2 separate regions of the Homo sapiens genome follow, and region 2 is linked to region 1. The links come from fine-mapping of genetic effects on gene expression. Tissue or cell type: whole blood. Region 1 holds a variant in brackets; the other region holds the start of a gene. All regions are shown on one strand. Distances are from middle to middle.

The links. PIP is the estimated chance that this variant, and not a neighbour inherited with it, causes the effect.
Region 2: KIAA0040 starts here. The variant in region 1 is fine-mapped to the expression of KIAA0040 in whole blood (INTERVAL, PIP 0.98).

Annotation. Positions count from the first base shown.
Region 1 is chr1:175,304,426-175,307,187 of GRCh38, reverse strand. All of the region lies in intron 1 of LOC105371623 (a long non-coding RNA gene), which reads right to left. Among named protein-coding and RNA genes, the nearest start is that of KIAA0040, 110 kb to the right of the region's middle. The variant T/C (reference allele first, on the strand shown) is at 1,346.
Region 2 is chr1:175,191,487-175,194,248 of GRCh38, reverse strand. KIAA0040 reads left to right here and starts at 1,473. Exons shown (of 4, transcript NM_014656.3): 1 at 1,473-1,609. RefSeq lists enhancers at 811-920, 1,641-1,790, 2,031-2,080, 2,221-2,270.

The sequences.
Region 1 (2,762 bases):
GTGACCATGTCCTTCAATGCATCTCCACTGAGCCACCTAAGTACTCCTGACCTAGGGCCTTTGTTTACTGTACCATTCACTTGTTCATTCATGCATGCAAGCATTCATTCATTCAATAAAGATTCCAGAACACACTCTGCCTCTTACTGGTTGTGTGCCCTGGGGTAAGTCCTTTTGTCACTTTGAAGCTCAGTGTCCTTATCTGTAAAATGGTATAAAGAATAACTGCCTTTCCAAGTGAAGGTGAGGAGCAGGCCATGATGAAGAACCAGAGTGGCTGAAGCACAGATGGGTGGGGATGGGTAACACAGGTGCAGCTGGGAAGGACGGCAGGACCTAATCAGACAGGGCCCTGCAAGCCATGCTTGAATCTTCATCGATTATAAGAGTGGTGGGGCTGGGCACGATGGCTCATGCCTGTAATCCAAGCACTTTGGGAGGCCGAGGCAGGTGGATCACAAGGTCAGGAGATCGAGACCACCCTGGCCAACATGGTGAAACCCTGTCTGTACTAAAATACAAAAAATTAGCCAGGCATGGGGGCACACACCTGTAATCCCAGCTACTCAGGAGGCTGAGGCACAGGAATTGCTTGAACCCGGGAGGCGAAGGTTGCAGTGAGCTGAGATTGCACCACTGCATTCCAGCCTGACGACAGAGTGAGACTCCATCTCAAACAAACAAACAAAAAAAAATAGTGGTGGGAAGCCATCGGAGGTGCCCAAGCAGGAGAGTGAGATGATCATGTTTGCATTTAAGAGAGTTGGCTGTGGCTATTGTGTAAATGGTGAAGGGGTACACAAGATTTGGGGGGAAATCAGGAATGGTTCAGATGAGAAATTAGGATAAGTTGAACTCAGGTGGTTTTAGTAGAGCTGGGAAAATATATATCCTCAAGAGATATTTAGGAATTAAATGGACAGAACCAAACATGTGGATGAGGAAGTTATAATGATGGTGTATAGAACTCTGGACAGCCTGACTGGGTAGGTGGTGGCTGCCCAGCTAAGGAAGAGACACTGGGTGAGAGCCAAAAACAGGAACTCCATTTGGAGCATCAGCTAGAGATGCCTTCAGATATCCAGGCAAAAGAGACTGGCAGCTGCATGTGTAGGACTAAAATTCAAAGGAGTGGCCCAAGCCAGAGATACCTGGGGATCACATACATGGCCAACTTCATGGGCTTGTGACCTGCACAGTCACAGAGGGCCTTATGCTAGAAATGTCCCATGTGTGATTTAACACTTTGTTGTCAGCACTTGAAGTTTTTGATCAAGAAACTCCCACATTTTTATTTTGCACCGGGCCCCCACAAATTATGTAGGTGGTCCTTAATATTTCATAA[T/C]ATCAATAAGATACTGACCACAATGGAAGCTACAGGCATGAATTCATTTGTTCATTCAACAAATACACTCCAGGCATTCTTCTATGCACTGGTGAAATAGCAGACGACAAAAGAGACAAAAATATCTGTCCTCACAGACTCTATACAATAGTGGATGAAGAAAACAAACAAATGAAATAAACTAGTACAATAAATACTATGTGAGATGGTGGTAAACCTCAGAAGGTAAATAAATAAACACAGAGAGCGGATTAGTCTGCTAGAGCTGCCATAAAAAATACCGTAAACAGCAGTGGCTTAAGCAACAGAAATGTATTCTCTCACTGTTCTGGAGACTGGAAGCACAAGATGAAGGTACCAGCAAATTCTGTTTCTCTCTTCCTGGCTTGCAGACGACTGCCTTCTTGCTGTGTGCTCACGTGGCCTTTCTCTGTGCAGGTGGACAGAGCGAGTGTTCTGGTGTATCTTCTTATAAGGACATGAATCCTACTGGATCAGGGCTCCAACCTTAGGACTTCATTTAACCTTAATGATCTCCTTAAAGATCTTGTCTCCAAGTACAGTCACATTGGGAGTTAGGATTTCAACATGTGAATTTTGGAGGACACAGTTCGGTTGGTCTCAGAGGATGGGGAGTGTTGGGGGCAAAGGAGTAGAGCAGAGACTGTTAGCTCTACCCCAGGTCACCTGTAGCTTTTGTGGGTAGTTCTCATTTATGCCAATGGAATTTCACCTCAAGCTTCAATGTTTTTCTATGGAAACGTTATGGAATGACTGTCCCTAGGAGTGATTCTCAAATAATTCGAGAAAGCAGGTGATGGATATACCCCAGCTTCCTTGCTCCTGAGCAAGACAGTTCTGAGATGTGCTCTACCTAGTTTCTCAGAGGGTCTCCCACAGTTGTGACACCTCCAACTGACTTTCACCCCTTCCCTTTTCCACTTCCCTATGACCTCACTATGCTTCAGTAAATATATATATATGTGTGTGTGTGTATATACATATACATATGTGTGTGTATATATATATGCATATATATATACATATGTGTGAAAGTCAATCAGAGGTGTCACAATGTTTGAATAACGTCCCAAGAAGGCGGGGAGCAAGTCACAGGGACATCTGGAGCTGAAGTGTTCCAGACAGAAAGAACAGCAAGTGCAAAGACCTCAGAGTTCTAGGCGCACCAGTGAAGCTGGTACAGAGAGACTGGAATAGAGCAGCAGGAAATGTGATTAGCTGGGTAAAATGTGAGGCTACATTGTAGAGTAGTGCTGGCCAATAGAAATAGAATGTGAGCCACAGATAGGATTCTAAACTTTCTAGTAGCCACACTTAAAAAAGAAACAGGTAAAGTAGATTTAATAATATATTTAGTCAATATATCCAAAATACTATTTTTTCAACATGTAATCAA
Region 2 (2,762 bases), 110 kb after region 1:
ACCTACATAGGTACATAGGTACATTGTACATAGGTAGACAACTGCAGGCTCAAAGTGTCATTACAGATTTGAGCTTCTCCCGGCTTGTGAATCTAGTCTTCCTCTGTAAAAAATAAATAAATAAATAAATAAATAACTTATTTTCCTCTTTTTCTAGCCATTTTTGGCGTTTCAGGCTGGATGGTGGGTTTTCTCTTTGGCCTTTCAACTCAGAGCCACGTGGTTTCTCCTGAATAAACAGAAAGGAATCTCTTGAATCTCAGTTGTGACAGTTGGTTGCAGCAGTCATTTTAATGCCCACTTGGAGAAGCCAAAGGACACCCATACTCAGGCACAGTCGATGGAGGGCAAGTCCTGGTTCAGCACCTGGCACCTGGTACCTGTGTACCTGGCAAATACAGTCGAGGGAACAGCATTTCAGGCCCTTGTCAGGGAGGACCTCCCAGGATGACACTGAGGAGGCCCCTGAAATGATCCACAGCCAGGTCCTGGCATCCCCCTCTTTTCCCACCCACAGTATCCCTGGAGGCACTGAACAAGCTCTGAATCATCAGAGCTTTGTGTCTGGAGTCCCCTATTCAAAGGGGCGCAGGTCTTTTCATTTCCTAGCATCCCATGTGCTCGGAACTAGAGCCAAGAGATCTGAATAGAAAGTAGATGGAGAGCAGCTGAGGATGAGAGGGAAGAACCCCTGAGAACTTTTTGAAGTCAGCTTTCCCCTCCGTCATTTGCTTGTGACAGACAGCTCCTGGGGCGCAGTTTTCCTTAGCGCCTCCAGGCAGCAGAGACAAAGACTCTTCTGAGATGTCACCTGCACCCCTTGGAGCAACCGGCGTTGGCTAGAGGGGACTGTCATGCTCATTTGTCCCGATAAGACATCGGAGCCTTCACCCAACCTGCCGCATGGTATCCCTCTCCAACGCCTCCCACCCCTTCCAGGAAGGCCCTCTATTTAGGCAGCTGTTTTCCCTGAAGCCGGGTTTGCCCGGAGTTCTGTGTCCCATTCCTGGAACACTGGTGCGTCTGTGAGAGACACCGGGGCTGGCTCCGCAGCCGCTGTGTCCTGAAGGAGGCGTGTTCCGGGACTGAGGGGGCAAGGACACGTAATGGCGGGGGGCGGGGAGTGGGGAGCCACCGGCGGGAAGACGGGGAGGGAGGGCGCGTCTGGGGCGTGTGCGCCCAAGGCCAGAGGCACCCGAGGTGGGCTGGCCCAGGGTGGAAAGCCTGGGCCGAGCCCCTGGAGCGGGCGGAACGGCGAGCCAGATTCAGGAAGTTGTGCCTGTGACATCAGGGGCAGGACAGAGTTGGAGCGAAACCTCAACTATGCCAGGCGTCGGCCCGTAGGAAGGCAGGGAACACAGAGGGCGCTGCCCTCGGCGGCAGCGGCAGGTACGCGCGGGGGTGGAGCGGGGCGGGGCGGGGCGGGGCGGGCGGCTCCCACGACCTTGGCCGGCGCCGGGGCCCTACACGCCAGACCTGGCTCGGGGTGGGAGTGCAGAGGCAACCAAAAAGGAACCCACACCTCCCTCCAGGGCCCGGGGCGCTGTCAGACGGGGCAGCAACCAGGAGATTCCCTGGGCCTGCAGGAAGCCCTTCCGCGGACCGAAAGGTGAGTTTCAGGACTTTCTGTTATGTTTTTTAAAAATACATTTTTAAGCGCCCTCTGTTTGGAAGAAGACGCCCAGTCACTCCTGTCTTTAGAAGGATGAGACCTGCCCCAGAGATACAAGGAATTATTCCTAAGTAGCCTCTTGCGCCTTCACAACTTTAGTTCTGGTGTGTTTCCCTCCTTCGCGAGGACTCTCAGGAGTCTTCCTCTCTGCGCCTGGGCTGAGTCCACATGAACTCCTCGGAGGTCGGCGGTGGAGTTACCTTACTCCAGCTGCCGGTAGGAGCGCTTTGAAGGGGACACATGGAAATTCTGTTTTTTACTGAGAAAGCTAAGGCCTGAGACCCTCCGGAAAGCATCGCGGGCTTAGGTGTTTCTAAACCATTCTAGGTGAAGCCAGATTTTCTCTGGAGCTAAGGAACTAGCCAAAACGAAAATATGGCGTGGAGCCAGGGGCGGAGAGGAAACCTGTTTGCTATTCTGAGAGTTTCCAGGGAGCTTGCTGTGACACAGATTACTTCCTAACTTCTTTGACTCTCAGTGGTCCCACCCCCAGACCCCCCATCCCACCCATGAAGGTAGAGTGGGGGACATAATAGGACCTGTTTCCCTAACATTCTGAAGAGCTTTACGGGATTCATCATATGATAATAGAGTTAAGTAAACTATAGATGATAGCTAGTGGGAAGACCAGTCCTGCCTAACCGAAAGGGAAACTGAAGCACAGACAAGCACTCACCCTAATTTAACAGAACACCGGCAGCCAGCATGCCATGCTACTTAGCGGGATTGTGCCACCGATTGCGTTATACGAGGAAGGGAAGGAAAAGACCACTGGAGCATCTTGGAAGCTCCTCCCTTCTAAAGCAGTTGCATTTCATTTGCTCAGCTACAGCTCATAAGGACCTGAAGCTAATTTTAAGGAACCCTCATTCTGAAGTTCTGTTAGATAATGGGAGAGCCTTGAGTTACAAAGAGCAGGACTTAAACATAGCATTGATGCAACCTGTTCCTAACCCTTTTGCAAATGGTTTGCAAGTTCTATCTAAAGACTTCTGCAAGCGTCTTACCAGCCTTTAAACTGGTTCAGTTGCATCAACCACTTAGTCTGATGTGCCTGCCCTTCACCCAGTGCTGGGCTGGAGAGGCAGCT